Regions from separate parts of the Homo sapiens genome. Here region 1 is linked to region 2. Evidence: fine-mapped expression QTL. A gene starts in region 2. The other region holds a variant in brackets. All regions are shown on one strand. Distances are between the middles of the regions. Region 1 overlaps ABCB9 (ATP binding cassette subfamily B member 9). Region 2 holds the start of ARL6IP4 (ARF like GTPase 6 interacting protein 4).

The links.
Region 1: its variant is fine-mapped to the expression of ARL6IP4 in whole blood (TOPMed, PIP 0.99).

The regions. Positions count from the first base shown.
Region 1 is chr12:122,957,346-122,962,818 of GRCh38, reverse strand. ABCB9 (ATP binding cassette subfamily B member 9) reads left to right here. Exons shown (of 12, transcript NM_019625.4): 2 at 2,497-3,184. The coding sequence starts at 2,584. Among named protein-coding and RNA genes, the nearest start is that of ABCB9, 6.4 kb to the left of the region's middle. The variant GAGAAAACTA/A (reference allele first, on the strand shown) is at 2,392.
Region 2 is chr12:122,977,396-122,982,603 of GRCh38, reverse strand. It overlaps ARL6IP4 (ARF like GTPase 6 interacting protein 4), which reads right to left and starts at 1,923. Exons shown (of 6, transcript NM_018694.4): 1 at 1,859-1,923; 2 at 1,305-1,475; 3 at 725-1,033; 4 at 530-647; 5 at 66-135. The coding sequence starts at 1,464. OGFOD2 (2-oxoglutarate and iron dependent oxygenase domain containing 2) reads right to left here. Exons shown (of 7, transcript NM_001304833.2): 5 at 4,035-4,162; 6 at 3,594-3,851; 7 at 2,562-3,521. The coding sequence ends at 3,258. RefSeq lists silencers at 1,507-1,606, 1,617-2,256 and enhancers at 1,339-1,844, 1,845-2,350, 2,507-2,726.

The DNA of each region.
Region 1 (5,473 bases), 20 kb after region 2:
AAAGTTGCTGTGAGGATTAAATAGGTGGGGCCACCTGGATTTGAAGCACATGGTGCAGGGCAGGGCTCACAGGAAGTGCAGTGTTACATCCCTGTCTGCTTGTAGTTATTAGACAACTGCTTTGTGCCAGGCATGCAGTAGACAGGTGGAGAGGCAGATGCTGGGGTCCTACACTCACTGACTGCCTCAAGTCATCCTGGCTTGGGCCCTTGTTGGCTGAATGTCTGGATCAGGTGGTTTTGTCTCTCTGTGCCTCAGTTTCCCTAACTGTAAACGGGAATATGGAAACCCTGGCCTCGTGGGACTGTGTGAGGTTCCAGTCATGCCACAGTGTGAGCGGTTTGGGCACCTGGGCGCCAGAGCTTCGGGGAGAGGATCTCTCTCAGGATGGCCCCTTCCCAGCCACGACAGTCATCCCCGCTGTCACCCAGCGCCTCACCCCTCCTCTTGGGGGATCTAGAGCCCAGCCCATTTTGCAGATATGACAACAAAAGGCCCACGGGAGGAAGGACTGGAGCTGAGACAGGAGGTAGCACCCAGGGACACACCCCAGCCCGGTCCTAACCCTACCGTGGACAAGCCCCACTCACAAACTCAGGCCTCCAGGCCCACTTCCCGGGTGTCCCTGCGGCTCTGGGGGAGTCCTGAGGGACCCAGTGCCGGGAGATGCCTTGGATAAAGCAGACATCAAGATTCAGAAAACCAAAGGGGCCTAGGGCTGGGCACGAGGGCCAACCTGGGCAGGAGGAAAAGATTCTGGAAACTTCCAAGCAGATGCCAAGGTTTCTGGATTGCTGTGTGGCCTGCAAGCCACCCCCACAGCTGTCAAGTTCCCTCTTAGACCAAAATAGTTTATTTGGGGTTGCAGAGATAGAAGGCCTGACGTGGGAGGAGAAAAGTGGACAAACATTTATTAAGCACACACTGTATATGGTTGATTACAATCAGCAGCAATTATGCACCAGGCACTCTGCCCAGAACTGACACATTGAACCTCACACTCACATTTTGCAAATGAGGAAACAGGTTCAGAGAAATGAGTAGTGGTAGTAAAGACAGCGGCTGTTTATTAAACTCTGCTTATCTCAGCTTCGTCCTCACTATGGATGCAAAATCCTCCAGATACTCCCCACCCTCTCTGATCTCATGGGGCCTTGCTGCCTTCCCAAGGGGCACTCCTGCCTTGGGGCTCTGGCACTGTTTCACCTGTGCCAAGTGCTTTTCCCCAGATAGCCACTTGGCAGACTTCCATAACTCTTTCAAGTCTTGCTCAAGTGTTACCTACCCAGCGAGGTCTTCTCTGGCCCCCTATTTAAAATTGATCTCTGGCCCCGCACAGTGGCTCACGCTTTTGATCCCAGACTTTGGGTTACTGAGGCATGTGGATCACTTGAGGTCAGGAGTTTGAGAACAGCCTGGCCAACATGGTGAAACCCCGTCTCTACTAAAAAAAATACAAAAAGTTAGCTGGTCATGGTGGTGGGGTACCTGTAGTCCCAGCTACTTGGGGGGCTGAGGCAGGAGAATCGCTTGAACCAGGGAGACGGAGGTTGCGGTGAGCCGGGATCGCACCACTGTACTCCAGCCTGGGCGACAGAGCAAGACTCTGTCTCAAATAAATAAATAAATAAAATAAAATTGATCTCTGTCTTCCCCCACCCCTATCCTATTCACCCTCACCCCATCCTATTTACCCCCCTCTTTTTTCCACCACAACCCTTATCTCTTTTTTTAATTAAAAAAAATTTTTTTTTTTAGAGATAGGATCTTGCTGTCACCAGGGCTGGAGTGTAGTGGCATGATCATAGCTCACTGTGGCCTCGAACTCCCAGGCTGAAGAAGCGATCCTCCCATCTTGGCCTCCCAAGTAGCTTGGACTACAGGAGCATGCTACCACACTCAGTTAATGTTTGTTTGTTTGTTTGTTTGTTTGCTTTTTAAAGACAGGGTCTCACCCTGTTGCCCAGGCTGCTCTCCAACTCCTGGCCTCAAGGGATCCTCCAACCTTGGCCTCACAAGACACACATTATTTCCTTATTATCTTTTTTTTTTTTTTTTGAGATGGAGTCTCGCTCTGTCACCCAGCTAAATTTTGTATTTTTAGTAGAGATGGGGGTTTCACCATGTTGGCCAGGCTGGTCTTCAACTCCTGACCTCAGGTGATCCACCTACCTCGGCCTCCCAAAGTGCTGGGATTACAGGCGTGAGCCCATTTCCTTATTATCTGTCTCCTGCATGAGTATGTCATCTCCAGGAGAGCAGGGATCTTTGTTCTTTTTGTTCATGACAAAGAACAAAGAACAGCACCTGGCCGCAGTGGGCACTCAGTAAGTATCCCTTGAATGAGTGGAATCTTAGTACCCGGGAAGTTGATATTGCCATTTTACAGAT[GAGAAAACTA/A]AGGCTCAGAGATGTCAAGTGACTTTCTCAAGGTCACACAGCCAGCGAGTGGCAAACCTGAACCCCTTGTGCTGATGTTTGCTGTTGTCCCTACAGGCCTGGCCTCGCCCTGTGGATGATGATGGCCTTGCCCCCGTGAGCTACAACCTGGCCTTCAGCACCCGCCCACCTCCAACCAGCAGGATGCGGCTGTGGAAGGCGGTGGTGGTGACTTTGGCCTTCATGAGTGTGGACATCTGCGTGACCACGGCCATCTATGTCTTCAGCCACCTGGACCGCAGCCTCCTGGAGGACATCCGCCACTTCAACATCTTTGACTCGGTGCTGGATCTCTGGGCAGCCTGCCTGTACCGCAGCTGCCTGCTGCTGGGAGCCACCATTGGTGTGGCCAAGAACAGTGCGCTGGGGCCCCGGCGGCTGCGGGCCTCGTGGCTGGTCATCACCCTCGTGTGCCTCTTCGTGGGCATCTATGCCATGGTGAAGCTGCTGCTCTTCTCAGAGGTGCGCAGGCCCATCCGGGACCCCTGGTTTTGGGCCCTGTTCGTGTGGACGTACATTTCACTCGGCGCATCCTTCCTGCTCTGGTGGCTGCTGTCCACCGTGCGGCCAGGCACCCAGGCCCTGGAGCCAGGGGCGGCCACCGAGGCTGAGGGCTTCCCTGGGAGCGGCCGGCCACCGCCCGAGCAGGCGTCTGGGGCCACGCTGCAGAAGCTGCTCTCCTACACCAAGCCCGACGTGGCCTTCCTCGTGGCCGCCTCCTTCTTCCTCATCGTGGCAGCTCTGGGTAAGTAAGGACCTCGGGGACATGTGGCCACCAGAACATCAAATTAGGTGGATATGACTGCCTTAGATTTTAAAAGATTTTACTTACGTGGTTCAGACATCAAATTGATATGAAAAGGAAAAGAGGCCAGGCATAGTGGCTCATATCTATAATCCCAGCACTTTGGGAGGCTGAGGTAGGAAGATCACTTGAGCCCAGGAGTTGAAAACCAGCCTGGGCAACATAGCGAGAACCCATTTCTATTTTATTTATTTATTTATTTATTGTATTTATTTATTTTTTCGAAACATAGTATTGCTCTGTCACCTAGGCTAGAGTGCAGTGGCACAATCTCAGGTCACTGCAACCTCTGCCTCCCAGCTTCAAGTGATTCTCCTGCCTCAGCCTCTCAAGTAGCTGGGACTACAGGCATATGCCACCACACCCAACTAATTTTTGTATTTTTAGTAGAAACAGGTTTTCGCCATGTTGGCCAGGCTGGTCTTGAACTCCTGACCTCAGGTGATCCACTGGCCTCGGCCTCCCAAAGTGCTGGGATTACAGGCGTGAGCCACGGTGCCTGCCCCATTTCTATTTTATGTAATTTAAAACGAAAAAATAGGCCAGGCGCGGTGGCTCACGCCTGTAATCCCAGCACTTTGGGAGGCCAAGGTGGGAAGATTGCCTGAGCCCAGGAGTTCAAGACCAGCCTGGGCAATATGACAAGACCCCATCTCAATTTAAAAAAGGAAAAAGTAAAAGACAAGAGAAGAAAAAGGAAACTATGAGTTCCACTCCTGTTTTTTTCTTTTTTTAGACAGGGTCTCACTCTGTTGCCCAGGCTGTAGTGCAGTGGCATGATCACAGCTTACGGCAGCTTCAACCTCCCAGGCTCAAGTAATCCCCCCACCTCAGTCTTCCAAATAGCTGGGACTACAGGGGCGTGCACCACACCCAGCTAATTAAAAAAAGAAAAATTTGTAAAGATAGGATCTCACTATGTTGTCCAGGCTGATCTCGAACTCCTGGGCTCAAGTGATCCTCCCACCTTGGCCTCTCAAAGCACTGGGATTACAGGCGCAAGCCACAATGCCTGGCTGTGTTTCACTTCTAATTCTACCCTGATCATTCTGCCCAGGGCTAACTGCAGGAAAAGGACCCAGAAACTCCCAGGTGGCCAGGAAAGCATTCTTTCTTACTCAATTCTTGTGCATGTTCCCAGCTTTTCCTTATGCAGCTACAAGCACATCAAAAGAACATGCATCACTCCCCCACCTCTCACCCACATTGTTTTATGTTTTGCTCTTTTCACTTAACAATATGTTCTGGAATTTTTCCAACCAGTACCTCATTGTTTTATTTGGCTTCATAATATTCCATTGTGCGGCTATACCATAGATTATTTAGTTGGTCTCCCATCATTTGACTCTTGGGTTATTTTGAGCCTTTTCCTCTTAACATGAATTTTTTTTTTTTTTTTTTTTTTGAGATGGAGTCTTGCTCTGTCACCCAGGCTGGAATGCAGTGGTGCGATCTTGGCTCACCGCAACCTCCATCTCCTGGGTTCAAGCGATTCTCCTGCCTCAGCCACCCAAGCAGCTGGGATTACAGGCGCCTGCCACCACGTCTGGCTAATTTTTGTATTTTTAGTAGAGACAGGGTTTCACCATGTTGGCCAGGCTAGTCTCAAACTCCTGAGTTCAAGCGATCTGCCTGCCTTGGCCTCCCAAGGTGCTGGGATTACAGGCATGAGCCACTGCGCCCGACCTGCACGTCAATAATTCTGTTCATACACATTTCATATGAATGTGGATGGATCTGTAGAATAAATTCCTGGAGCTGGGATCATCAGAGAATAGACTAGAAAACATCAGAGTGGGCAGGCATGGTGGCTCATGCCTGTAATCCCAGCGCTTTGGGAGGCCGAGGCAGGCAGATAACGAAAAAAAAAAAAAACTCTCAGCAGTTTGAGACCAAAAAAAAAAAAAAAAGATATTAATATTTTAGTTGTGTGTGCCTACGTGCAGGTGTGGCCTGGTTTGTGACATGAAATGTATTTGTGCCTGTGAGTCTGGTCCAAACAGTTTGAAGGCACCACTCAGCAACATGGGTGGGAAGGTGGCACTGCATGGTTGGAGCTCACAGGTTCTGGGGGCAACGAGGCCTGGGCACAAATCCCTGTCCTGCTCCCTACCCAGCCGAGTGGCCCTGCGTAAGTTCTCCAGCCTTTCTGAGCCTCACTTCCCTCCTCTGTGCAACAAGGATTGTTGGAGTCCTTATTTCCTGACATTTTAGATGCTGAAAAGAACG
Region 2 (5,208 bases):
ACAGGAGGAGGGGTACATCACAAACAGAGCTGGGGGCGGATGGCAGGCAGAGGGGCCACACCCACCTTGTTGATCTCTCTGTGTCGTTCTTTGGTTACGATTTCCTCTAGGACCTCGCCATCTCCCTTAATAAGCCTGGGGGTGGGAGGGTCTCCGTTCAGCAAGGAATAGGCAGGTCCCCTAATGCCAGAGGAGCAGAACCACAAGCAGCCGGCAGAGGGGTCCCAGGGCTCCCACCCCGCAGCCTTGAGTGGACAGACCCTGGGGCCTCACCCACTCTCCCTGATGAAGGCAGTGGAGCTGGGCTCTGCCTTGCCAGCCTCAGCCCGGCCAACAACAGCCCTTTCAAGAGCCTCCTCCAGGCCCTTCCAGCCCCTGCAACTACTTACTCCAAGTGACCGTATTTTTGCCCACATTTGGCCTTTTTCAGGCACCAGGAACCCCGCCCGGCCCCACTCCTCCCGAGAGCACACATCTTCAGCCAACACTCCCAGATCCTGTGGTGTAAGTCAGGCCGAAAGCTCCCCACCTGGTGCGCCCCGTCTCAGGGTCCACCACCTTGCGGATGATGCTCTGCCGGGCATCCCACTCCTCCTTGGTCATGGGCTTCATGGCCTGGATTCGGGACTTCTGCTCATCCGTCAGGACTGGAAGGGAAGACGGAGGTGGTGGCCAGGCCTTGGGAAGCGACCTTCTCCCTCTCAGGTGCTGGGCAGCACAGTACCTGGGCCATCCTCTTCCTCCCCAGCTGATCGGTGCCACTGGTCCAGCGAGGGGCCCGGCAGAGCCTCCACCTGCTGTGCTTCCGCCTTCTCCTTGCCCTTCTTCTTCAGCTTCTTCCTCTTCTTCTTCTTCTTCCTCCTCTTGTCCTTGTACTTCCCCCGCTTCTTCCGGCCATCACTGGAGGAAGAGGAGGAGGACGAGGAGGAAGAAGAGGAGCTAGAAGAACTGGAAGAAGAGGAGGAGGAGCTGGATCTTGTTCTCCTCCGGGCCTTCTGCTTGCTTCTCTCTGTGATGCAGGGAGAAGGTGAGGCTGGAAGGCCAGGAGGGGAAGAGGTAAACCTTCGTCCCCTGCTCTGGCCTGGGGCAGGCACAGACCGGCTACAGGGTGAGCGCTTCCTGAGGGGCTTTCCAGAACAGAGATGGAGCTTCCCAGAGGAGCCCCTTCCTGGCTCCTGCGGCGCCTGGCCCTCACATCTCAGGCCCGGCTGCACAGAGGCATGACTGAGCGTCCCCGACCACTGCTCGCCCGACTTCCCCGGGTAGTAACTGCGCCTCCTCTCCCCGATGCCTGTGGTCCTCACCCTCCGCCCCAGGGGCCGTGCTGGCCTTGCGACCTTGGGATGTGGAGGCCGAGCAGTTCCTCGAGGTGTCTTTCCTGCTCTTCTTCTTTCTCTTTTCCGACCCCCGTCCCCGGGACCGGCTGCGACTCCTCGAGCGCTTGCGGGAGCCGACGTGAGCCATGGCGCCGCGGGCTGGCGACGAAGAAGACGCGCTTGAGCCGAAGCCCCCAAGGCCGGCCGCGGGCGGGCTCCAAGGGTGGCTCTAGCGGGGCCGGGGCCTGGCGACGCCCAGTACCCGTCACCGTCCCGGGAAAATGAGCGACCCTCACCCACCCCCAGCGCTGGGGACCCCGGTTTTCTCCGCCGACTCCAGTCCCCGCAGCGGTGCCTGTTAAGGGCCCGCCCCGTGCCCGGAGGCCCCACGCCTGCGCACCCGGCTCCAAACCCCTGGGAACTGGCCGCCGTCCGCCGCGAGTGGCGTCTGGGGCGCTTTCCCGCGCTCTCCTACCCTCCAGCCCCGCGCCCTTCGCGGCCTCGCCGCCTCAAGGGGGCCCCCGGGGCTGCTCCGTTCCCACCTCGACCGCCCTGCGGGCCGGACAGCCCGCCCCGCGCCTTCTCGAGAGGAAGCGGCGGCGAGGAGGCTTCCGGCCGGGGCGCTGCGCGGGAGGCTGGCCGGCTGGGAAGCGCGGCGCCGCTGCCTTTCGTTCTGACGCCCCAGGTTCCGTCCCGGGCGCGCCCACCTCCCGCAGAGGCAAGCAGGGGCGCCGGCCCTCGAGCTCCGCAGCCCCTCACGCCTGTGTCTGCCGAAGCTGCGCCCACTTCCAAGGCTGCCCTCTCGGCGCACGCCCGCAGCACCCACGCCCCCGGTGCCCTGGGAAGAAGGCGACCCTCGCGCGCGCCGCCCTCCTCCCCGGCTGGTCCTGCCCTCTCCATACGACTGCGAGCTCCAGACTGAGGCGCCCTGGTCTTTCCGACGCGCCCACCCAGTGACTCAGAGGTCGCAAACTCGTGTCCGTAGGGGCCAGAAAGATCTTGGCAGTGAGCGCGGGCATGGACCCCAGGCCCATCCGGAAGGAAGCCAGGATTCTGCTCCAGCTGATACGTGCAACGTGGCATGGGGCTGGTGCCCCACCTTCCCAGGGAGACCAAACTCAAGACTGCAATATGGAAGCCCCCTGAGTTTCAAATGTGTAACCCAAAGCGTGGCTGTGCGCTTCATCCAATCTCGGGCCCCCAAGTTGCAACTCTTCCACAATGACAGCCGCAAACACAAAGGGATCTTGCAAAGCACTTTATATACGTCAGCGCATTTGACTCCCAAAACAGCTCTAGGAGGTAGGTGCTAAATGAGGAAACGAAGGCACCAAAAGGTGAAGGCTCACCTAAAGCCACACAGCTGGAAGTGGCAGAAGCAGAATGGGAACCCGGGCAGCCTGGTTCCTGGCCCTGCCATTCACCCCTCTGCCATCTAGAAGATGCTACTGGTGGCCCACCCGAGTCCACTGGGGGGTGATGCCTGCTGCTGAGGGTTCACATCTGTGCTCTCTGGAGGCTTCCCTTGGCTACTGGAAGGCACCCTGCCCTGGAGATAAGTGTCTGGGAAGTTATTCACTCCTCTCTGGCCCCCTCATCCAGGAGCCAGTAACCGGTGGTGTGGGCACACTGTGGTACTGTGGGCTCTGCCTGGAGCTCTCCGTGGGGCCAGCTGAGGCTGGACGTCCTCTGAAGCCACTTCCTTGCCCAGCTGCTCCCTCCCCTCCCCTGCTTCCCTGACTCCCTCGCTGAAGCCCCATTCCAGACCCTGCTTCTGACAAACCTGAACTAAGGCAGCATCTTTGCCCATAGAATGACCCAGAAGCTGGCACACCGTTGAGCCAAGAAGTGCAGTAGGCTGCGGGGATTTTATTTCTGCCCCCAGACCAAGGCAACGGAGCCCTCACCTGCCTGCCACCCCCACACTGGGCCCAAGCAAGCTCAGGTGAGCGCACATACATCCACCGTGGCGGGCTCCTCTCGGGTGAAGCCATCACCGAAGCCCTCATCGTCCACCAGGTCGGGCTCACGGCAGCACATGGGACAGAGGCTGTTGCGCACAGCAGAGGCTCGGAGCCAGACGACAAGGTTCCAACGCTCACCAGTGCCCAAGGGCCGGGCTCCATGCAGCTGGCCGCCACGGTGGAGGACACCCTGGCCCACCACGTGCTCCACCTCCAGGGGCTCCGTCAGGGCTGTGGGTGCCTGCAGATGGCACGACTCAGGCCTGGGCACTCACAGCTGCCCCAGGCCCTGCCGCATGGGTCACACACTCACCTGGAAGAGGCCCCCAAAATACAGGGCGCCCCCTGTGAAGACCTTGCCCAAGGCCACATTGAGGGTGAGCTCGGCATTATCATAGTGGCAGCCCAGCTCCAGGTCCTGGCCCGGTGCGTATTTGACCACAAAGGCCCGGTGGCTGTCGAGCCGGCCCCCGCCACAGTCAGGGTACAGCAGGGCCATCAGCGGCTGCAGGAAGCGCTCCCGCAGTGGTGTCATCAGCGGCTCGTCCAGCCCGAGCTCGTGCAGCAGCACCTGGGAGGGGATTCCTGGGGTCAGCAAGGAAACTAGAGGGCTGCAACCCTGGGCTTCCACTCCACGGTGATCCCACTGTGACCTTCTTTCGCAGCCCGGGCAGGCAGCCCATCTGCAGAACCTCTGACACTGCCTCCTGACCCCAGCCACCCCCTCCTCTGCCACCGGCCAGGCCTCACCCACCCCGTAGTTGTTCATGGTGTTGGGCCTCCCCTTAGGCATGTCCGATTGCTCGAAGTGCTCCAGCTCTTCCAGCAGGGCCTGGCAGAAGGGCGCTGTGAAAACAGGCACCCGGTAGATGCGCTTCTCCTCTGTGGAAGGAGGGATGGTCTGTTGGCCTGAATGTGGCCGTGGGCCGGCCAGGCCTGGGCTTCAGTCTTCCTGTTTCATCACCTGTGCCATGGAGATGAGGCCTTTGCTTTTCAGGGCTATTGTGATGACTTAAGGAAGTAACATGAGGAGCAGGGGAGGCCGATTCCCATGCCCCCCACTTATGCCCGGAACCTTTCCCCAGACTCTACAAGTGTCCACAGGGCTGGCCCTGGGAGCTCACATATGGGTCCTGAGGCCCAGAGAGGGGAAGGAAGTAGCCCAGGGACACCCAGCAGGCCAGTGACAGCCAAGTCGGGATCACAGAGCCAACTTCAGGCTCTCTCTGCACCTCCTTTCATCTGATGAGCCACCGAAGTCTGTACCCCAACTCAGAAGTGGCTCTGGGAGCCTCTGTCCCCCAGCAGGAAGGCCAGAAGGGGCTGTTCTTTCTTGCTGGGCCCTGAGGGGGAAGAAACCAGGCTGAGAATGGAAACCTAAACATTTCTTGGCGGACGCACCAATGCCCAGGGGTGCAGGGCTAGTGTGCCCACGATGGGGCCACCTCGCAGCCTAGGCCCTGCCCCAGCCAACAGCCTCAGCACTATCTCAGCTGCCGGGGAGTGGAAGGCAATGAGGAGAGCACCCCCAGGCTGGGAGGAGGGGGATTCATTCCACCCATGACTCCCAACAAAGCACAGGCTCCATGAGGGGAAACTTGTATCTGCCTCCCACAGGAGCCCCTAGCCCAGGCTATCAGTGCCAATAAGAATAGGAAACACTTTCCAAACACTACGTGCGGGCCCTGTGACAGGCACTCTATGCAGATTAACTCACTTGATCGTCGCAGTGCCTTAAGAGAGGGGGTTACTGTTGCTCCCATTTTACAGATGAGGAAACTGAATCAGAGGTTAAACAACACGCAAACCTCCCTTGCCCAGCATTTCCTGCTGGGTTTAGCCAATAAGTGAGCCCAGCAAGAAATCCGAAGAGAAGTGGGGCATTTTTTGCCCTACTTGGAGTTTGGCATGGCCGCAGGCCTCCGCCC